Linked DNA regions of Homo sapiens: region 2 is linked to region 1. Evidence: fine-mapped expression QTL. A gene starts in region 1. The other region holds a variant in brackets. All regions are shown on one strand. Distances are between the middles of the regions. Region 1 holds the start of SLC29A2 (solute carrier family 29 member 2). Region 2 has its middle 18 kb from the start of RBM4B.

Region 1 (15,849 bases):
AGCTCTGTAGCCAGGCTGGAGTGCAGTGGTGCAATCTCTGCTCACTGCAACCTCCCCCTCCCAGGTTCAAGCAATTCTCCTGCCTCAGCTTCCTGAGTAGCTGGGATTACAGGCACGTATGTGCTGCCACGCCTGGCTAACTTTTGTATTTTTAGTAGAGACGGGGTATCACCATGTTGGCCAGGATTGTCTTGATCTCCTCACCTCGTGACCCGCCCACTCAGCAAGTTACTGCATTGTTCATCGACAATACTTGGCCATCAAGAATGTTCACAAAATACTACAAATCAATGAATGTTTTCCCACGTTGTTATTAGGTTGAATCATGGGAAATAGACATTTTGTGGGTTAGAAAGCAACTTGATGAAGAGCATCCACAAAAAAACTACAGCTAACTATATACTTTATAGCGACAAACTTGAAGCTTTTCTGGTAAGATCAGGGACAAGGCAAGAATGTCCCCTCTCACCACTGCTTTTCAACATCCTACTGGAAGTTTTAGCCAACACAATAAGTTAATAAAAGGAAATAAAAGGCATACAGATGGGGAAAGAAGAAATAAAACTGTCTTTGTTTGCTAATGACATAATTTCCTAGGTAGAAAACCTGAAAGAATCAAAAAAGCTTTGGAAATAATAAGCAATTATACCAAGGCTGGAGGATACAGGTTAATATTCAAAAGTCAATCTTTTTTTTTTTTTTTTTTTTTTTTTGAGACAGAGTTTTGCTCTTGTTGCCCAGGCTGGAGTGCAATGGCGCGATCTTGGCTCACCGCAACCTCCGCCTCCTGCATTCAAGCGATTCTCCTACCTCAGCCTCCCGAGTAGCTGAGATTACAGGCATGCGCCACCACGCCCAGCTAATTTTTTTGTATTTTTAGTAGAGACGGGGTTTCTCCATGTTGGTCAGGCTGGTCTCGAACTCCCGACCTCAGGTGATCCGCCCGCCTCGGACTCCTGAAGTGCTGGGATTACAGGCGTGAGCCACCCCGCCCCGCCCCATATTCTTATATATAGCAATGAATGAGCAAAATTTAAAGCACATTATAATTTTTTTACCGCATTAAGAATGTACTCCATAGCCGGGCGTGGTGGCTCACGCCTGTAATCCCAGCACTTTGGGAAGCCAAGACGGGCGGATCACGAGGTCAGGAGATCAAGACTATCCTGGCTAACACGGTGAAACCCTGTCTCTACTAAAAATACAAAAAAATTAGCAGGGCGTGGTGGCGGGCGCCTGTAGTCCCAGCTACTAGGGAGGCTGAGGCAGGAGAATGGCGTGAACCTAGGAGGCGGAGCTTGCAGTGAGCCAAGATCGCACCACTGCACTCCAGCCTGGGCGACAGAGCGAGACTCTGTCTCAAAAGAAAAAAAAAAAAGAATGTACTCTATAAAAAGAGGAAAAAAATGCAATTTTTTTTAGCAACTTGTACATTTCAGAAGGTACAAACTGCTTTGTGAAATCAACCAAACATTTTTAGTGGGTGCTCCTCTTTTCTTTTTTTTTTTATTATTATACTTTAAGTTCTAGGGTACATGTGCACAACGTGCAGATTTGTTCCATAGGTATACATGTGCCATGTTGGTTTGCTGCGCCCATTAACTCGTCATTTGCATTAGGTATTTCTCCTAATGCTATCCCTCCCCCTGCCCCCCACCTCACGACAAGCCCCTGGGTGTGACGTTACCCACCCTGTGTCCAAGTGTTCTCATTGTTCAATTCCCACCTATGAGTGAGAACACGCGGTGTTTGGTTTTCTGTCCTTGTGATAGTTTGCTCAAAATGAGGGTTTCCAGCTGCATTCATGTCCCTGCAAAGGACATGAACTCATCCTTTTTTTTTTTTTTTTTTTTTTTTGAGACGGAGTCTCGCTCTGTCCCAAGGCTGGAGTGCAGTGGCACGATCTCGGCTCACTGCAAGCTCCGCCTCCTGGGTTCATGCCATTCTCCTGCCTCAGCCTCCCGAGTAGCTGGGACTACAGGCGCCCGCCACCGCGCCCTGCTAATTTTTTTGTATTTTTAGTAGAGACGGGTTTCACTGTGTTAGCCAGGATGGTTTTGATATCCTGACCTCGTGATCCGCCTGCCTTGGCCTCCCAAAGTGCTGGGATTACAGGCATGAGTCACCGCGCCCAGCTGAACTCATCCTTTTTTATGGCTGCATATATTCCATGATGTATATGTGCCACATTTTCTTAATCCAGTCTATCATTGATGGACATTTGGGTTGGTTCCAAGTCTTTGTTATTGTGAATAGTGCTGCAATAAACATACATGAAAGCACATTATAATTTACATTACCATCCCAGAAATGGAAATAGTTACGTGTAATGAATATAACAAAATATGCAAGATCCATATGAGGAAAACTGTAAGACTCTGATGAAAGATATCAAAGAAGAATTAAATAAATGGAGAGGCCTGGGACCGGTGGCTCATGCCTAGGATTCCAGCACTTTGGGAGGCCAAGGTAGAAGGATCACTTGAGTCCAAGAGTTTGAGATGAGTCTGGGAAACATAGTGAGACTTATTCTCTACAAAAAATTAAAAAATTAGCTCAGTGGTGGCACATGCCTGTGGTTCCAGCTACTCAGGAGGCTGAGGAGGGAGGATCGACTGAGCCCGGGAGGTTGAGGCTGCAGTCAGCTGTCACTGCACCGTTGCACTCCAACCTGGACATCCGAGTGAGACCTTGTCTCAAAATTAAATAAATAAATAAATAAATAAATAAATAAATAAATAAATAAATAAAATGGAGAGATATTCCCTGTTCATGGATAGGAGAGCTTCATATTGTCAAGATATCTCTCCTTCCCAACTTGATCTATAGATTAAGCATGATTCCAATCAAAATCCCAGAAAATTATTTTGTGGATATTGACAAACTGATTCTAAAGCTTAGGTGAAGTGGCAAAAGACTCAGAATAGCCAACACAATATAGGAAAAGAGCAAACTCAAAGGACTGACACTACCCAAGTTAAGTATTTAATATAACGGCCAGGAGCGGTGGCTCATGCCTGTAATCTCAGCACTGTGGGAGGCCGAGGCAGGCAGATTACGAGGTCAGGATTTCAAGACCAGCCTGACCAATATGGTGAAACACGGTCTCTACTAAAAATACAAAAATTAGCTGGGCATGATGGCATGTGCCTGTAGTCCCAGCTACTCAAGAGGCTGAGGCAGGATAATCGCCTGAACCCGGGAGGTGGAGGTTGCAGTGAGCCAAGATCGCACCACTGCACTCCAGCCTGGGCAACTGAGCGAGACTCCATTTCAAAAAAAAAAAATTAATATAGCTACAGTTATCAAGAGAGTGTGCTATTAGTGAAAGAATAGACAAATAGATCAATGAAACAGAACTCAGAGCCCAGAAATAGAGCCACATAAATATAGTCAAATGATCTTGGTCAAAGGAGCAAAGGAAATACAACAGAATAAAGACAGTCTTTTCAACAAACGGTGCTGGAACGACTGGACATCCACATGGGAAAATTGAATCTAGACACAGACCTTAAATCATTCACAAACATTAGCTTAAAATTGGTCATGTAAAACACAAAGCTATATAAAACACTTAAACTGTACATAACTATATAAAACTCCTAGAAGATAACATAGGAGAAAACCTAGATCATCTTGGATATAGTGATAACTTTTTAGATACAACTCCAAAGGCACAAGGCATGAAATAAGTAGTATAGGTTGGACTTCGTTAAAATTAAAAACTTCTGCCCTGCGAAAGACACTGTTGAGAGAATGAAGAGAAAAGCCACAGACTGGATAAAATATTTTCAACACACACATCAGATAACAGACTGTTATCCAAAATATACAAAAAAGGGCCAGGCATGGTGGCTCACATCTGTAATCCCAGCACTTTGGGAGGCCGAGGCAGGTGGATCACCTGCGGTCAGGAGTTCAAGACCAGCCTGGCCAACACGGTGAAACCCCATCTCTACTGCAAATACACAAAATCAGCTGGGCATGGTGACGTGCACCTGTAATCCCAGCTACTGGTGAGGCTGAGGCAGAGAATCACTTGAACCCGGGAGGCAGAGGTTGCAGTGAGCCGAGATTGAGCCATTGCACTCCAGCCTGGGCGACAGAGTGAGACTCCGTCTCAAAAAAATACAAAAATTAACAAATAAATAAATAAATAAAACAAGATATCGCTGCACACTTATTAGACTGGCTAAACTCTAAAACATTAACACCAAGTGCCCACAAAAATGTGGAGCATCAAGAATTGTTTCATTGTTGCTGGGAACAAAAAATGGTACAGGCACTTTGGAAGATAGTTTGGCAGTTTCTTACCAAACTAAACAGTCTTACCATATGACCTAGCAATGGTGCTCCTCGGCATTTAACCCAAATAAATTGAAAACTTATGTCCACACAAAAACCTCCACACAATTGTGTATAGCATCTTTATTTGTGATCACCAAAACATGGAAGCCACCAAGACGTCTTGAAATAGGTAAATGGATAAACAAACCATGGCAATTCATACAATGGAGTATTATTTAGCAATAAAAATAAATGTGTTGCCTGGGCGCGGTGGCTTATGCCTGTAATCCCAGCACTTTGGGAGGTCGAGACAGGCAGATCACTTGAGGCCAGGAGTTCGAGACCAGCCTGGTCAACATGGGGAAACCCTGTCTTTGCTAAAAATACAAAAATTAGCTGGGCATGGTGGCAGGCACCTGTAATCCCAGCTACTTGGTAGGCTGAGGCAGAAGAATCACTTGAACCTGGGAGGCAGAGGTTGCAGTGAGCTGAGATCATGCCACTGGACTCCAGTCTAGGCGACAAGAGTGAAACTCCATCTCAAAAATTTAAAAAATTAAAAAAAAAAGAAATGAATTATCATGCCAAGAAAAGACATGCAGGATCCTTAAGCACACATATAAATGAAAGAAGCCAGGTTGGGCCCAGTAGCTTATGCCTGTAATCTCAGCACTTTGGGAGGCTGAGGCCGGTGGATCACTTGAGGTCAGGAGTTCGAGACCAGCCTGGCCAACATGGTGAAACCCTGTCTCTACTAAAAATACAAAAATTAGCCAGGTGTGGTGGCTCGCACCTGTAATCCCAGCTACTCGGGAGGCTGAGGCAGGAGAATCGCTTGAACCTGGGAGGTGGAGGTTGCAGTGAGCCGAGATCACGCCATTGCACTCCAGCCTGGGCAACAAAAGCAAAACTCCATCTCAAATAATAATAATAATAATAATCATCATCATCATCATCATCATCATCATCATCATCATCAATGTTGAATGAAATTCAGTACACAGGTTTAACATTAGATTAAGTACAACCTAAAAATAAAATCTATTATTTATTTTTTAAAACCATGTTGATAATTTTTCTGAGCCTAGACTCTAAATCCTTTTTACATTTAGACAAAATGTATTATTTGCAAGGCTTGAATATACACAGCATTCTTCAGTAACACAGCTACTGTCTGTGTTGACGGACAGCTGCCCTTTGACTTCTTTGGAACTTGACCAGGACTTGGTCACATTTAAGAAAATCACATCCTAGCATAAAGAAAAGACAAATATTTAAGGTGATGGACATCTCAGTTGTCCTAGTTTGATCTTTACACATTATATGAATAGATTAAATTATCACATACACCCTGAAAATATGTACATCTATTATGTATCAAAAAAATAAATAAATAGGGCCAGGAGCGGTGGCTCACGCCTGTAATCCCAGCACTTTGGGAGGCCGAGGCAGGTGGATCACGAGGTCAGCAGTTCGAGATCAGCCTAACCAACATGGTAAAACCCTGTCTCCACTAAAAATACAAAAAAATTAGCTGGGCGTGGTGGTGGGCGCCTGTAATCTCAGCAATTTGGGATGCTGAGGCAGGAGAATTGCTTGAAACCGGAAGGTGGAGTTTGCAGTGAGCCAAGATTGCACCACTGCACTGTAGCCTGGGCAATAAGAGCAAAACTCTGTCTTAAAAAATAATAATAATAAGTAAAATAAAATAAAATAAATAAAAATAAAATTTAAAACATAAATGAGGAAAAAAGTTTTTTTTTAGGCCGGGCACTGTGGCTCACGCCTGTAATCCCAGCACTTTAGGAGGCTGAGGTGGGTGGATCACGAGGTCAGGAGTTCAAGACTAGCATGGCCAAGATGGTGAAACCCCATCTTTACTAAAAAATACAAAAATTAGCCGGGCATAGTGGCTTGTGCCTGTAATCCCAGCTACTAGGGGAGGCTGAGGCAGGAGAATCACTTGAACCTGGGAGGCAGAGGTTGCAGTGAGCTGAGATTGCGCCAGTGCACTCTAGCCTAGGTGACAGAGCAAGACTGTGTCTCAAAAAAAAAATTGTTTTTTTTTTTAAAGAAAAGAGGCTGGGTTTAGTGGCTTATGCCTGTAATTACAGCACTTTAGGAGGCTGAGACGGGCAGATCACCTGAGGTCAGGAGCTCGAGACCAGCCTGGCCAACATGGCGAAATCCTGTCTCTACTAAAAATACAAAAATTAGCCAGGCATCATGGCACACGCCTGTAATCCCAGCTACTCAGGAGGCTGAGGCAGGAGAATCGTGTGAGCCCAGGAGGCAGAGGTTGTAGTGAGCCAAGATCCTGCCACTGCACTCTGGCCTGGGCAACAGAGAGAGACTCCGTCTGAAAAAAAAAAAAAAAAGAAAAAAAAAGAGAAAAAGAAAAGAAAAAAAAAGGTAAGAAAAGAAAAGAAAATCCTGGCAAACTAGTGGGTCTCTGAGTGGCCAGTTTCACTGCATGCCTGTATCGCATGTGAGTTTGTAGCCGTGGATTCACTGCAGTTTTAGAAAGAAGGGCAAGCATTTGACAGCTTCATGTACCATGAATATTAACACATTCACACACACCATGTTATTACTAAATAATTTCCCTTATGATTCATCTGCAGTAAAATCAGGATATTATCTCGACATCAAATGTTATTGTGTATAGGTAGGTTTTGTTTTATATGAGTTTCATTGCAGGATAGTAACAAAATATTTATTACAAGGACGATGGAATCGGCTCCAGCTGACCGTCTGTGCTTTGAAATGAAATCTGAACTCCTTAATCAGCCCTCAGACTTGCCATAACCAGCCTGGCTGTTGTAGAGGCTCTGTCCCCTCCTCCCACCAATGCCAGCCAAAGGGATCTATTTGTATGTCCCAGAATGTGTCAGCACTCTCTTGTCCCTTGTCTTGGGACAGGCTGTTCTCTCCCTGAAATGCCCTCATCCTCTCCCTTCACTGTCTCAACAAATTCAGTGCTCCCTAGCCTCCATTCTCAAGTCCTTCCTTCACAACCTGTGCCATAGCTGTGCTGCACCAGCGGCCTCGCTTTTCTTTAAATAACTCATTTTCCATAAATAAATTGATTTTTCAAAGAAAAGTTGATATCATAATCATAAATAGGAAACCAGTATGAGTAGCCCTGAAAATAAAGTTGCTATAAAAATAAATATAAGAAAAATACAAGTTAATAACTTTTGATAAAATTGTCAGCAGACCCTCTGAGGCTAACTGAGGGGAAGGGATGGGAAGGCAGATTAAGAAGTGTTAGCAACCTGTTAACACCCTTGACATATTCAGAGGCTTGAAAGAAAATGGGAAGAATAACTTTCTCTTTCGGTGTAATTTAATGCTGTCTCTGTTCTCCCTAAAATCACCTGCATTTTACTGCAACCACCCATTTATCACTCAACGGCGCTAGATGCTGCCAGTAAACCAATGGACCAGATAAGCACAGCCTCTGCCCCTACAGACTCTCAGTCGGCTGGAGGAAAAACATAAGCAACCTGGGAATGGCTATAAAATGTCATTGCTTAAGAAAATAGTTTGTGGCCGGGCGTGGTGGCTCACGCCTGTAATAGCAACATTTTGGGAGGCCGATGCGGGCGGATCACCTGAGGTCAAGAGTTCGAGACCAGCCTGGTCAAAAGATGAGTTCGAGACTAGACTGGCCACCTCTTCAGTAGAGCTGGTGAAGCCCCGTTTCTACTAAAAATACAAAAATTAACCGGACGTGGTGGCATGCGCCTGTAGTCCCAGCTACTCCTGAGGCTGAGGCACCAGAATCGCTTGAACCTGCCTGGGAGGGGGAGGTTGCAGTGAGCCAAGATCACGCCACTGCACTTCCGCCTGGGCGACAGAGCGACACTCAGTCTCAAAAAAACTAGTTTGTGTTTTGGAGCCTCTCACTTCTCCAGCGTCCCCGATACGCCCGGGGATTGCAGAGAACCCACACCTATTCGTAGATTATGAGAGTAGGAGCAAATTAATGATTTATAGTCTTTTCAAATTTTTTTTTTTAACAGAAAAAGAGTAGGGAGTTGAAAGTAATGCTGTTTTTTTCCAGGCACTCCCGGGGACCCAGCGCGGCGAAGCCCGCCAGGATCGCGGGCGACCTGTGGCAGCTCTGGTTCCCCCGCCCGGGCCCGGCTCGGGTTACGCTCTGGGCGGGGACTCCGCAGCGGCTCCCTAGTTAGGGGGCGCCCCGGTGGGTTCCAGCTTTAGGGGTCGCAGGAGCGGCTCTGGCATCACCTCGGAGCTGACGAAGCGGGAAGAGCCCCGCACCAGTGCTGCCCCTACAGAGCTCTCGGCGGGGGGTGGAGGTGAGGTTACACCTCGTCCCTACCCCCGCCTTCCCCTCCGCCGCAGGGATCCGGGACCCGCCCCCGCGGAGAGGACGGGGGGCTGCGGGGAGGGGCTGTGCGGGGAGCGGGCGGGTTCCGCAGGCCCCTAGGTGGGGCGGGGCCCGAGCCAGAGTCGAGTCCCTGAGGCGGGTGGGGGAAGGAGAGACGGGTGGCGCGACCCTCTGTCCCCGCCTCGGGGCGGAGCCCAGGTCCCAGCCTGCGGAGCGCGAGACACGCCGAAATCCGCCCGAGGCTACCTGTGCGACTCCAGCCGCCCTGCACCGGAATCTGGGGAGACCCGCCCCCCGCCCCACCGGTCTGCGGCCCTCCGCCCCAGCGCAGGTGCAGGTGCGGCTTCTCTGCCCCTTTCACCCCAGGCGCATCCGCCGCGGCGGCCATGGCGCGAGGAGACGCCCCGCGGGACAGGTGAGTGGGCCCGGGTGCGTTGCAAGTGGCCGGGGGCGTTGCAGACCCGCTCCCTGAAGGCGCTCCGAGGCTCAGAGAAGACCGGATCGAACTACAATTCCCATCAGCCGACTCCCTCGGCCGCCGGAACCGGGGTGATCGGGGTTGTAGTCCGCTCCGGAGGGGGTGGCCTGGGAGGCGGGAGGGCCTGCGGAGGCGGGTGCGTCCTCGGGGTGACCTTCCCACCGATCCCCACAGCTACCACCTGGTCGGGATCAGCTTCTTCATCCTGGGGCTGGGCACCCTCCTTCCCTGGAACTTCTTCATCACCGCCATCCCGGTGAGACTCCTGGCGGCGTGGCAGCCTCGTGGCCACAGCCAGCACCCCTCCCTCCAGCCCTTTGGATGAAGCTTAGCGGGCGCTTCCTCACCGCGCACCTGTGACCCCTCGTTGAGCTCATTATGGGCTGAAGCTCGGAGAGGGGAATGCTTCCCCCGTGGCTAGGAAAGTAGAACTTCAGCAATGCCCACATCTCAGAGGGGCAAGGCCACCAGCCCACAGGGTCTGGAATGAGCAAAGGCGCTGCCACCCCTCTCTGTGTGTCGTTATTCCTGAGTCAGTCACCCCAAAAGTCGGTTATCGAACGTTTGATTTTCTTTGAAATACCATGAATTTCATTCATTCACTCATTCATTCAACAAACTTTTTTTTTTTTTTTTTTTTTGAGACAGAGTCTGGCTCTTTCGCCCAGGCTGGAGTGCAGTGGCGCCATCTCGGCTCACTGCAAGCTCCGCCTCCCGGGTTCACGCCATTCTCCTGCCTCACCCTCCCGAGTAGCTGGGACTACAGGCGCCCGCCGCCACGCGCGGCTATTTTTTTTTGTATTTTTAGTAGAGACGGGGTTTCACCGTGTTAGCCAGGATGGTCTCGATCTCCTGACCTCGTGATCCTCCCGCCTCGGCCTCCCAAAGTGCTGGGATTACAGGCGTGAGCCACCGTGCCCAGCCTCATTCAACAAACTTTTAATGTGCATCTACTGTGGAGCAGGCACTGGGGACACAGGAGGAAACAGCAGGGAGGCTCTTCAGGGAAGGCAGAAATGTGGGGTTTGCATTGTCTTTGGGACCGGGTTATTCATCTGTATTCACTGCAACAACTTTGCAAATGCTTCTTGGGTACTGGCTCTGTGCTGGGCCCTGGAAACCCAGAGATGAATCAGCCCCTGGGCTTGAGAGCAAGAGGGGGCCAAAGAGCTATTAATAATGTAACATGATGCGTGACATTCCAGGCTTGCAGCAGAGTGCAGTGGGTCCCCAGGGGAGGGAGAAAGTTCCTTCTGCTTCATGGAAGAGGAGATTTGTAAATTGGGAGTAGGGTAGGCAAAGTGCATGTGGAGGGGTGTGGTCAGTAGGGCATTCCAGGCCGAGGCGACAGCCATGCCAAAGGCAGGCAGGCAAGAGACGATCAGCCTGTTTAGAGGGAGATCCACAGCCAGGGCTGCCTGGAGCTTAGCAGGATGGAGCAGAAGATGGGGCACAAAGGGAGACTAGGATCTGATTCTGAAGAGCTGTTCCATTTGGGGCTTTGCCCTGCAGGCAATAGGGAGGCATGAATCGGGGTGTTGAGGAGTGAGGAGGTTAAGCAGAGGAGTGGCAGGCTATGTGCTCTAGAGAGAATGCAGTTGTTCAGCACCTAGGCCAAAGCCTGGCTGACAGTAGGCGCTCAATAAATACCCGTGGAATGAATGAATGTAGCAGCTGCTGCAGGAGTGGGGATGGGGGCTGGAACCAGGGCACTGAAGAGGAGGGGCCGTCCAAGGCTGGATCGAGGCTCTTGCTGGGGGCTCTTAATGCTTAGGCTGTGTCCCAGACTTCAGCCATTTAACTCAGCACACATTCATGGAGCTCCGACTGTGTGCCGGCTGCTGGGAACAGAACAAGGACAAGGCAGACAAGTCCCCACAGACATTAGAAAGCAATCACAAGTGAGGGGGAAGGCAGCGGGGGAAGGCTGAGAGGTGCTGACCCTCCACCACCTCCCCACCTGGCAGTACTTCCAGGCGCGACTGGCCGGGGCCGGCAACAGCACAGCCAGGATCCTGAGCACCAACCACACGGGTCCCGAGGATGCCTTCAACTTCAACAATTGGGTGACGCTGCTGTCCCAGCTGCCCCTGCTGCTCTTCACCCTCCTCAACTCCTTCCTGTACCAGTGGTGAGAGGCCTGCCCTGGCTCCTGCGCCCTCTGCCGAGGCAGCTTCATTGAGGCCCTCCCCTGCGCCCCCTGCCCCCCAGCCCTACTGCCCAGCCCCAGGTGTCGAGCCTCCTTCCCCAGCCCCCTCTGGCCTGGGCCCCACTGATGCACTCTGCCTGCTTCTGAGCAGCGTCCCGGAGACGGTGCGCATTCTGGGCAGCCTGCTGGCCATACTGCTGCTCTTTGCCCTGACAGCAGCGCTGGTCAAGGTGGACATGAGCCCCGGACCCTTCTTCTCCATCACCATGGCCTCCGTCTGCTTCATCAACTGTGAGCACCTCCACCCCCTCTCCAGCCAGCCTATGCAGGGCTTCAGCCTGGCCTCATCATTGAAAGGGCCCAGCATATCCGAGAAGGGCAGACAGCATCATGGTCGCTCATATCCCTGGTGAAGAAACTGAGGCCCACAGGGAGGGGAAGAGTCACTTGTCCGGTGACCTAGGAGCAGGCCTCCTGGTCAACAGCCCCACAGACCAATGGCTGCACCTCAGAAGAGGACTGAATAGCGGGTGTTGCCCCCGAGTGCTCAGAGTCCCTAGGGAAGCTCACACCTGCGCAACCTTGTCCAGAGTCCCCTGTGTATCCTGCCGGCACCTCCTCCAGGGAGCCTCTGAGTCTTGCCTAGTTGAGCAGCAGCCCCCATCCCTGTCCTCCACAGCCTTCAGTGCAGTCCTACAGGGCAGCCTCTTCGGGCAGCTGGGCACCATGCCCTCCACCTACAGCACCCTCTTCCTCAGCGGCCAGGGCCTGGCTGGGATCTTTGCTGCCCTTGCCATGCTCCTGTCCATGGCCAGTGAGTGCACTTGGGTGGCTGGAGGGCTGGGGTGGCCTCTGAGGTTTGGGGAAGAGAGAGGGCATGTGAGAGCAAGACACATGGGTTCTGGGTGAAGATGGAGGTAAGCAGGTGATATGGAAATGGGGATTGGGTCTGGGGCTAGGGAGTGGGGCTCATGGGCCCTGCAGTGAGGAGTAATAACCAAGTGAGGACTGGGTTAACTCAGGGACAGGGGCAGGATTCCTGGGGCTAATACTGGCATGTGGCAGCAGGTTGAAGTTGAAGGATAAGGGGATGGGTTTGGGATTCAGATAGTCTTGGGTTTGAATCTGCTTCACCGCTTACCAGCTAGGGGTGTTGGACAAGGCTTGTCACCTCTCTGTGCTAGCTTCCCCACCGACGTGATTGGTATAGCTCCCTGCTCAGATTGTAATGAGCATGCAATGAGAGAAGGCTACTGGCACATAGTACGTGCTCAACAAAAATGACACATGGGGAAAGTGAGAGAAGTGCAGGGCTGCTCTGGGGCCCTGTACAAGATTCCCATTTGTCAGTGAAGGGAGGAGCGGAAGAGGCTGGGAGTGGGTCTGAGAAGTACACAATGGGAAGTGGGACAAGAGTTGGAAGCCCCGTGGGAGCCGGCGGGACCAGGTGCCTCTCTTCTGCAGCTGAAGTTCCTCCGCAGGTGGCGTGGACGCCGAGACCTCTGCCCTGGGGTACTTTATCACGCCCTGTGTGGGCATCCTCATGTCCATCGTGTGTTACCTGAGCCTGCCTCACCTGGTGAGCCTGCTGTTGGGCTCGAGGCCCCACCTCAAAGCATCTTGGATAGAGTCCTGAGCCTGAGGCCCTGAGAGAGGCCAGGGGAGGTGGAGGAGACCTGGTCTCAGCCCTGACCCCCAGAGAAGACACTGAGGGGCCCCAGCCTCCAGGCCAATGGTATGGGGAGGGATCCAGACACCTCAGGCAAGCCAGGCAGGCCCAACACTTTCCTGTCCTTCTGCAGAAGTTTGCCCGCTACTACCTGGCCAATAAATCATCCCAGGCCCAAGCTCAGGAGCTGGAGACCAAAGCTGAGCTCCTCCAGTCTGGTAAGCCCTGAGACCCTCCTGGGGAGGTGGGAGATGCAGAGGAAGCTAGAGCCACCTCCCCTGGGAAGCTGTTCCATCTGTTCCCAGCCAGAGCCCACCCCTAGTAGCCTTGTGCAAACAGGAAGATCATGAAGGGAAGTTGGTAGGATTAAAGTCATCCCTGCTGTTGTTTGGGCCTCAGTTTCCACCTCTATAAAATGGGGAGGCGACAGAGGTTCCATGCATGCAAACTTTGGATCCGAAGACCTCTGAATTGGAATACTAGTTTCACAACATCCCAGCTGTGTGGCCTGAGACAAACCACTTAGCCACTGCACCCCTCTGAACCTCAATGTGTCATTTGTAAAGCAATGGTAATGAGATAATCCATCTAAGGTGCTTCGCTCATCACCCGACCCATGCACGCGCTTCCTGGTAGCTATGCATATTTCCATCATGAATTCCCTTCGCCTGCAGCCTCAGCTTAGGCTGGAGGAAGATCACCTTTTTTTGTTTTGGGGTGAGGGGGTTGTTGTTATTTTGAGTCAGGATCTCACTCTGTCACCTAGGCTGCACTGCAGTGCTATCACAACTCAACTGCAGCCTCGACCTCCTGGGCTCAAGTGAGCCACCTCAGTCTCCCGAGTAGCTGGGACTATAGGTGCAGGCTGCCATGCCCGGCTAATTTTTTTATTTTTGTAGAAATGGGGATTCACCATGTTGCCCAGGCTGGTCTCGAACTCCTGGGCTCAAGCAATATGCCCGCCTCGGCCTTCCAAAATGTTGGGATTACAGGCGTGAGCCACCATGCTGAGCTGAGGATCACTTGTTTTAACTGCTGGGAATCTCCCTTCGTTGGGCCTGGCTGTCGGGAAACCTGGGTCACAAGCATGACCCTTCCCCGTCCCCCCTCACCCCAGATGAGAACGGGATTCCCAGTAGTCCCCAGAAAGTAGCTCTGACCCTGGATCTTGACCTGGAGAAGGAGCCGGAATCAGAGCCAGATGAGCCCCAGAAGCCAGGAAAACCTTCAGTCTTCACTGTCTTCCAGAAGGTTTGGCTTGGATACAGCCCCCAACCACCATCTTTGGGGAAGAATGGGGCTCACATTGACTCCAAGGTCATAGGGTCACAGTGGGTCAGGGACACAGCTGGGCCAGGCCCCAAGTGTCCTGCTCCCACATGGGGCTTGGGCAAGAGGGTGGGGCCCTGGGACTGCCCTGCCTGCTCACACCCCTGCCTCTGGCTCCCAGATCTGGCTGACAGCGCTGTGCCTTGTGTTGGTCTTCACAGTCACCCTGTCCGTCTTCCCCGCCATCACAGCCATGGTGACCAGCTCCACCAGTCCTGGGAAGTGGAGTGAGTGTCAGGGTGGAGAAGACGGCAGGGCAGGGGGTACAAAGGGGAGAGGACGGGAGAGGGGAGTTGGAGACCAGTATGAGCTGCAGCCGTTTCCCTCCCAGGTCAGTTCTTCAACCCCATCTGCTGCTTCCTCCTCTTCAACATCATGGACTGGCTGGGACGGAGCCTGACCTCTTACTTCCTGTGGGTAAGCACACCAGGGCTGGGTGATCCGATGTTTTAGGAAGCAGTTTGGGATCCGAGGGCTTGAAAGAGCATGGAGGTGATTTTCTGGTAGTCCAAATGGCCTGGTAATGCAACCACTGGCCAAGCAGCAGGGAGCACTTGGGCCCTGGAGGCGTGCAGGCCAGGGCTTGCACTGTGAGCTCCCTGAAAGCAAAAATCATGTCCAGCTGACCTCTGTGTCCCCAGCATCCAGCCTTTGCTGCTCAGAGAATGTTACATGGAGGTTCCTGCACCAGGTGAGGGACTGAGCAAGAGTCTTAGTTTTGGGGTTGGTTTTAGCCATGGTACTGTATCTTTAAATGAAATCTTCCAAAGAGACAATACATAACGCAGGTGAAAGAGGAGCTGGTCTCATCCAAGTCAGGACAGGAGCTGATCTACAGCTTCCAATCCCACTCAGAAACCCCATCTGCCCCCAAGGGGGTCTGTGGAACCACCAGTGGGTGCTCTGAGGAACCGAGTACGTAAACTGTAGATGCGGTGGAGAGCACAAGCTGGAGCCTGGGAGAGGCAGAGGTGAGCCCCAGGCCAGTCCCTGATTTCTGGGTGGACTTGGCCCAGGCCCCAGTGCTGGGTCCTCCCTCACTGGCTCACAAGGTAGGTCAGGTCAGAGGAGGTCAGGGGGTGACAGATGGGTCTATCCTATGGGTGGGCCAGGCGTGGTGGCTCACACCTATAATCCTAGCACTCTGGGGCTGGACGCGGTGGCTCACACCTGTAATCCCAGCACTCTGGGAGGCCGAGGCGGGTGGATCACGAGGTCAGGAGTTCGAGACCAGCCTGGCCAACATGGTGAAACCCCGTCTCTACTAAAAAGATAACAATTAGCAGGTGTGGTGGTGCACACCTGTAATCCCAGGGAGGCAGAGGCTGCAGTGAGCCGAGATCGCACCACTGCTCTCCAGCCTGGGAGACAGAGCGAGACTCTGTCTCAAAAACAAACAAACAAAAAAACCCCTAAAATCCGAGCACTTTGGGAGGCCAAGGCAAGAGGATCGCTTGAGCTCAGGAGTTCAAAACCAGCCTGGGCAACACAGTGAGACTTTGTCTGTACACACACACACACACAAATTTTTAATGAAAAAAATAGAGGCCGGGTATGGTGGCTCACGCCTGTAATCCCAG
Region 2 (8,000 bases), 290 kb before region 1:
GCCAACATGGCGAAACCCTGTCCCTACTAAAAATACAAAAATTAGCCAGGCGTGGTGGCGAGTGCCTGTAGTCCCAGCACTTGGGAGGCTGAGGCAGGAGAATTGCTTGATCCCAGGAGGCAGAGGTTGCAGGGAGCCGAGATGGCACCACTGTACTCCCATCTCAAAAAAAAAAAAAAAAAAAAACAGCTGGGCATGGTGGTGCATGCCTGTAATCTCAGCTACTCAAGAGGCTGAAGTGGGAGACTCTTGAGCCCAGGAGGTTGAGGCTGCAGTGAGCTGTGATCATGCCACTGCACTCCATTCTGGGCAACAGGAGGCCCTGTCTCCAAAACAACAAAAAAGGATTTAGGTTAGTGCTGTGGCTTCAGTAATAGGTGGTAGGAAGTTAGCCAGATTCTTGAGACACTGCTAAATTTGCTACAGCTGGTGGTGAGGCTACTTTTCTCTAACCAGAGCTGCTCTTAAACCAGTTTAAAGGCTAACAGACTCAGATTAGTAGTGCTAGGAGTAAGCCCTGCATCAGAAAAAGGCTGAGCCAGATTCTCTCCAAGGACCTATCACATTAACTAAATTTGACTTCATAGTTTTCTGGCTCATATTTACAAAACAAAAAGAAAACATATATACACACACACACACACACACACACACATATACACACACATTTTTGCCTAGTTACCACCCCTCTCCAGTGTTTCTCCTTTTTTAATTTTTAAAAAACAATTAGGCCAGGCACAGTGGCTCATGCCTGTAATCCCAGCACTTTGGGAGGCCAAGGCACACGAATCACGAGGTCAGGAGATCAAGACTAAAATACAAAAAATTAGCTGGATGTGGTGGCGGGCGCCTGTAGTCCCAGCTACTCGGGAGGCTGAGGCAGGAGAATGGCGTGAACCAAGGAGGCAGAGGTTGCACTGAGCCGAGATCACGCCACTGCACTCCAGCCTGGGTGACAGAGCGAGACTCCATCTCAAAAAAATAAAAAATTAAATTCACTTATGAGCTATTAAAAGAGGTCTGTCTTCCCAAGGTGCTAATATTCTGCTAGGATTAGGCTTTGGCTAAAATATTCATACATAGTACTTTGAGCAGAAAAGCAAATCACATATTAATGATTAGCAGTGACATTTTGCAGTAAAGTATGTCTTCTAGATTATGGACATCTTATTTATCTTTGTTTAGATCCCCATAGAACACATTTAATGATGGACTCAACTCTACTTAAGCTTTATTGTACTTTATATGGAAATGTTGATGTGTAAATTCTGACTACATGTGAAATTTTACCTACAATAATAAAGCATTTACCTCACATATTTTATACTTAATCTTGACAGGTGAAGCAAAAATTTTCCCTTATTTCTTAGGGGAATGGTCTGACAATCTACAGAAGTTAACCTGTCCATCCATGCACACATTCCAACCAGTGGTGATGTACATAAGGCTCATGTTAGCGTCAGTATTCCCCAAGGAAGCAAGACTGTCTCTGTTTTACAAAAGGGAAAATAAGGCAAAGATGCTGGGATTTTCTTATGATCTGCAAGGCACTATGCAGAGCCAAGAAAAAAAATTTGCAGGTTTTGCTGGCCTCAGCAAAATCTCTGGTGGTTCTGTGCTAGGTTTCAACCAATTTAACATAGGAAGTTTAACATATACCAGGTGCGTGACTCACGCCTGTAATCCTAGCATTTTGGGAGGCTGAGGCAGGTGGATTGCCCGAGCTCAAGAGTTTGAGACCAGCCTGGGCAACATGGTGAAACCCCATCTCTACTAAAAATACAAAAAATTAGCCGGGCATGGTGGTGTGCACCTGTAATCCCAGCTACTAGGGAGGCTGAGGCACAAGAATCGCTTGAACCCAGGAGGCAGAGGTTACAGTGAGCCAAGATCACGCCAATGCACTCCAGCCTGGGCAACAGAGTGAGACTCTGTCTCAAAAAAATAAATAAATAAATAAAAGTATCTTGATTTCTATGTCATTGGCACAAGAAAAAAAATTTTCTGCAAAAGAGTTCTATATCATCACTGCCCAATAACACTCCTGGCAGTGATGGAAGTGTTCCATATCTGTGCTGTCCAATTTGTGGCTACTGTGGTTACTGAGTACCTGAAATGTGGTTTATTCCACTGAGAAACTGAGTTTTTTATTTAATTATAATTAGCTACATGTAGCTAGTGGCTACTCTATTGGACAGCAGTTTAGATAGTAAAATAAGCTGCTCATAGGTGGAGAAAAAGCCCTGCAGAATTGCATAATTTTTATTTTAGAAAACCTTTCACACCAAAAGAGTACTGTTGAGTAGGACAAATGTATTTTTTTGTTTTGAGATGGAGTCTCGCTCTGTCACTGAGGCTGGAGTGCACTGGCATGATCTCGGCTCACTGCAACCTCTGCCTCCCAGGTTCAAGCAATTCTCCTGTCTCAACCTCCCCAGTAGCTGGGATCACAGTCGCGCGCCACCACGCCTGGTGAATTTTCGTATTTTTAGTGGAGATGGGGTTTCACCATATTGGTCAGGCTGGTCTTGAACACCTGACCTCAGGTGATCCACCCACCTCGGCTTCCCAAAGTGCCGGGATTACAGGCGTGAGCCACCACACCTGGCCAATGTTTTTATTCCTAAACCTTACTTCTTATATGATAAATTGCATATTGTGAATACAAAATTCCTTTAGTTCACCAAGTTTCTCACTATAGACCATTTCAGAGTCCCATGAGGCCTCTCAACGCTAAAAGCTCCTGAATTCATTTATCAACTGTTTGAATTCCTACTATGAGCTAGGATGTGGGAACATGGTGATGAATGAGGCATATGTGGTTTCTGTAGCCTCAGATCTACCCCCTTCCTCAGGTTTCCAGCATGGCACAGAAAGACACTAGGCCCTCAGGGCACTCAAGGTGCTGTTAGAAACTTGTCCTAAGGGCAGAAAAAGGTTGGCTGCCTGCAAGATGGACCAGAAAAGGGAAGCAACTTGCCCCAGATTGGTTTCATAGCTTGTCAGGATTTTGCTTACAAACCTGGTCCTCAGGAAGTCACCTGGCCTAGGAGATTTGGGAAAAGGAAGGAGGGGAGAAATAAATATTCCTGGGAAGAGCTGTCAGTTTGTTGGAAGATCAATCTCGGCTTTCTTCAGACCAGAGCTAGGCTCTGCCGCTGAGGAGAAATGAAATGCAAGAAATGATAGAATCAGCTCCAGGAACTTGCAGGAGAAGAATGAAAAATCTGACGAGATGAATTCAATCTGAAGTGCCTTAGGTTTGCAGGGCCTTTGAGAATCCAGGCCAAATTCAAACCGTGTATCTGTCACCCCTGCAAATCCACAAGAACCCAATGAGGTAGCATCACTGGCTCTCCCAGCAATTAAGGCTACTGAGATTTAGAAAGTTTAGGCCGGGCACGGCTGAGCGCAGTGGCTCACGCCTGTAATCCCAGCACTTTGGGAGGCCGAGTCGGGTGGATCACGAGGTCAGGAGATCGAGACCATCCTGGCTAACATGGTGAAACCCTGCCTCTACTAAAAATACAAAAAAAATTAGCCAGGTATGGTGGCACATGCCTGTAGTCCCAGCTACTCGGGAGGCTGAGGCAGAAGAATGGCGTGAACCCGGGAGGCAGAGCTTGCAGTGAGCTGAGATCGCACCACTGCACTCCAGCCTGGGCGACAGAGCAAGACTCCATCTCAAATTAAAAAAAAAAAAAAAAAGTTTAGGTCGGGTGCAGTGGCCTACCTACACCTGTAATCCCAGCACTTTGGGAGCCGAGGTAGAAGGATCACCTGAGGTCTGGAGTTTGAGACCAGCCAGGACAACATGGCGAAACCCTGTCTCTACTAAAACTACAAAAAAATTAGGCAGAAGCCTGTAATTCCAGCTATTCAGTAGGCTGAAGTAGGAGAATCACTTGAACCCAGGAGGCAAAGGTTGTAGTGAGCCAAGATCGTGCCACTGCACTCCAGCCTGGTTGCAGAGCAAGACTCTGTCTCAAAAAAAAAAAAAAAAAAAGAGAGACTCCCATCTCAAAAAAAAAGAAATTGTGATAAGTACCACAAATTACACAAAATGGGTCCAATGGCAGGGAATAATGGGAGGACATATCTACTAAGCTACAGGTGGTTTGGGAGGGCATTCCAATACTTGATCCTGAAGCTAAGACCTGAAGTTAAGTTAGCTCTAAAGCAGTAAAGAGAAAGGTCCCTTCAGATTTAAAAAAAAAAAAAAAAAAAAGGCCCTGAGGCAGGAAAGAGCTCAGTGTATACAAGGATCTGAAAGGAGAGTCAGTATGGTCAGAAAAGGATAGATAAGCAGGGAAAAGGGCCTGAGAT[A/G]ATAAAGTGTGACAGAGGAAAGGCACGTTCAAACTAAGGGATTGGGCATTTTACTTTAGATAAAAGGGGAAGTTGCTGAAAGGTTCTAAGTAACGAAAGAAACATCTGATTTACATACATTTCACAAGAACATTCTGGCTATTAAATGGAGAATACTTTGAAGACCCAAGGGTAAGAAAAAGATGGACCTGGAGGTCACTGTAGTCATCTTGGTGGGAGAGGATAGCATGGTCTAGACTATGGCTGTGGCAAAGACATGGAGAAAAGAGGCAACATGTGATATAAACATGATCAAGAGCTGCTAATGGTTGGGGAGGGCGTAAGAATGACTACCAGCAATCTGGCTGAAAGAGAGAATGGGATAAGGAAGACTGAAGGAGAAATGATTTTAGAGTGGGGAGTCTCAGGAGCTCTATCTCAGATATACCAAGTTTGAGGTGTATTAAGACAACCAGCCAGGTGCAGTAGCTCATGCCTGTAATCCCAGCAAGTTGGGAGGCCAAGGCGGGCAGAACCCGAGGTCGGTAGTTCGAGACCAGCCTGGCCAATATGGTGAAATCCCGTCTCTAAATTTTGTATCTAAAGATACAAAAATTAGCCAGGTGTAGTGGCACGTGCCTGTAGTCCTAGCTACTCAGGAGACTGAGGCAGAAGAATCACTTGAATCCGGGGGGCGGAGCTTGCAGTGAGCCGAGATCGCGCCACTGCACTACAGCCTGGGCAACAGAGTGAGACTCCATCTCAAAAAAAAAAAAAAAAAAAAAAAAAGAACCAAGAAGAAATGTCAGCTAGGTGTCCAGATCCCTGAATCTTGAGCACAGAAGAGAGGTTTCAAACTGGAGATATCAAGAGTCTTTAGCACCTGGATCAGTGTTACATAACAGAAATACAATGTGAGCCACAAATGCAAACCACATAGGGAACTGAAACAGGTGAAATTAAATTGTATTAATTTTATTTTCCCCAGATAGTCTGGTGGTTAGGAAAAAAAAAAATTTTAATGTATTTTTACCCAATATGTGCAAAAAAATGACCATTTCAACATATAATGAGCATTAAAAACTGAATATATATATATATATATTTTTTTTTTTTGAGAGACACTCTTGCTCTGTTGCCCAGGCTAGAGTGCCGTGGCCCAATCTTGGCTCAATAGAACCTCCGCCTCCCAGGTACAAGCAATTCTCCTGTCTCAGCCTCCCAAGAAGCTGGGACTACAGGCACGTGCCACCACGCCTGGCTAAGTTTTGTATTTTTAGTAGAGATGGGGTTTCACCACCTTGGCCAGGCTGGTCTCAAACTCCTGACATCAAGTGATCTGCCCACCTTGGCCTCCCAAAGTGCTGGGATTACAGGCGTGAGCCACTGCGCCTGGCTTATATTAATTTTTTAAATCCCATAGGTATTTGGTACTCGCAGCACTGTATATGTCTCTGGCTACCACACTGAACAGCACAACTCCATATGGTATACAAAGCCAAAGCAATGAATGAAGTCTTGAAGAGGATTTCAAACTTGGCACTAGTGATAACTGGGAAAGGTGCCCCTCCTGTGCATTGGAGGATGTTTAGCCACATCCCTGGCGGGAGAAACCCCCTAAATTGTGACAATTAACAATGATTTCAGGGAATCTCTGAGCCTATTCTAGTTGCCCATTTAAAACAAAACGAAAAAAAAAAAAAAAAAAAAAAAAAGGTCAGACTAGGCCAGGCACAGTGGCTCACGCCTGTAATCCCAGCATTTTGGGAGGCCGAGGCAGGCGGATTACCTGAGGTCGGGAGTTCAAAACCAACCTGACCACCACGGAGAAACCCCATCTCTACTAAAAATACAAAATTAGACGGGCGTGGTGGTGCATGCCTGTAATCCCAGCTACTAGGGAGGCTGAGGCAGCAGAATCGCTTGAATCCAGGAGGCAGAGGTTGCACTGAGCCGAGATCGTGCCGTTGCACTCCAGCAGCCTGGGCAACAAGAGCAAAACTCCATCTCAAAAAAAAAAAATTTTAAAAAAGGGTCAGACTAGGTGGCTCACGCCTGTAATCCCAGCACTTTGGGAGGCTGAGGCAGGCAAATGGCTAGAGCTCAGGAGTTCAAGACCAGCCTGGGCAACATGGCAAAACCACAACTACAAAATACAGAAATTAGTTGGGCATGCTGGCATGCGCCAGTGGTCCCAGCTACTCGGGAGGCTGAGGTGAGAGAATTGCTTGAGCCCGGGAGGAGGTGGAGGTTGAACACGGCACTCCAGCCTGGGTGACATAGGAAGACCCTGTCTCAAAAAAAAGGTGGGGGAGGGGGCAGGCGAGGTGGCTCATGCCTATAATTTTTTTTTTTTTTTTTTTTTTTTTTGAGATGGAATCTTGCTCTGTCGCCCAGGCTAGAGTGCAGTGGCGCTATCTCATCTCACTGCACCCTCCACCTCCCGGGTTCAAGTGATTCTTCTGCCTCAGCCTCCCAAGTAGCTGGGACTACAGGTGCGCACCACGACAACTGGCTAATATTTTACATTTTTAGTAGAGACGGGGTTTCATCATGTCGGCCAGGCTGCTCTCGAGCTCCTGACCTCAAGTGATCCACCCCCTCGGCCTCCCAAAGTGCCGGGATTACAGGTGTGAGCCACCGCGCCCGGCCTAATCTTAGTAGTCTGGAAGGCTGAGACAAGAGTATAGCTTGAGCCAGGAGTTCCTAACCAGCCTGGGCAACATAGGGAGACCCCATCTCTACCAAAAGATAAAAATAAAAAATAAATTAGCCAGGTGCAATGGTGCATACCTCTGTAGTTCCAGCTACTTGGAAGGTTGAGATGGGAAGACCGCTTCAGCTCAGAAGGTTGAGGCTGCATTGAGCCATACTCATACCACTGTACTCCAGCCTAGGCAACAGAGCAAGACCGCACCTAAAAAAAAAAAAAAAAAAAAAAAAAGACTAAAAAATTGATCAGGGGCTGAGGATTAACTACAAAGGGGCACAAGGGCTTTTTGGCTGACAAAAATGTTCTGTATTTTGATTGCAACAATGGGAACAAGATTGTAACCATCAGTTACCAAAATTACCAGTACATTGTCAAACTGGGCATGGTGGCTCACGACTGTGCCTATAATCCCAGCACTTTGGGCGGCCAAGGTGGTGGATCACCTAAGGTCAGGAGTTCAAGACCAGCCTGGCCAACATGGTGAAACTCCGTCTCTGCTAAAAATATAAAAATTAGCTGGACATGGTGGCATGCATCTATAATCCCAGTTACTCAAAAGGCTGAGGCACAAAAATCGCTTGAACCCGGGAGGTGGAGATTGCAGTGAACCGAGATCATGTCACTGCACTCCAGCCTGGGCAATAGAGTGAGACACCATCTTTTTAAAAAACAAAACAAAAGGCCCCCCAAAAAAGTACATTGTCACAATGTGTCAAATTGTTTTCAAAATTGGTATATTTTATTGTTTGAAAATAATACTTCAGGCCGGGCATAGTGGCTCATGCCTGTAACCTCAGCATTTTGGGAGGCCAAGGTGAGCAGATCAACTGAGGCTGGGAGTTCGAGACCAGTCTGACTGACATGGAGAATCCCCGTCTCTACTAAAAAAATAGAAAATTAGGCCAGGCACGGTGGCTCACACCTGTAATCCCAGCACTTTGGGAGGCCGAGGCGGGTGGATCACAAGGTCATGAGATCGAGA

Evidence for each region. PIP is the estimated chance that this variant, and not a neighbour inherited with it, causes the effect.
Region 2: its variant is fine-mapped to the expression of SLC29A2 in whole blood (TOPMed, PIP above 0.99).

Annotation. Positions count from the first base shown.
Region 1 is chr11:66,364,773-66,380,621 of GRCh38, reverse strand. It overlaps SLC29A2 (solute carrier family 29 member 2), which reads left to right and starts at 8,862. Exons shown (of 12, transcript NM_001532.3): 1 at 8,862-9,059; 2 at 9,297-9,378; 3 at 11,090-11,253; 4 at 11,423-11,562; 5 at 11,951-12,085; 6 at 12,753-12,850; 7 at 13,074-13,158; 8 at 14,058-14,191; 9 at 14,391-14,496; 10 at 14,601-14,686. The coding sequence starts at 9,031. RefSeq lists a silencer at 8,407-9,166.
Region 2 is chr11:66,656,358-66,664,357 of GRCh38, reverse strand. It overlaps a transcript of RBM4 not described here. Among named protein-coding and RNA genes, the nearest start is that of RBM4B, 18 kb to the left of the region's middle. The variant A/G (reference allele first, on the strand shown) is at 4,327.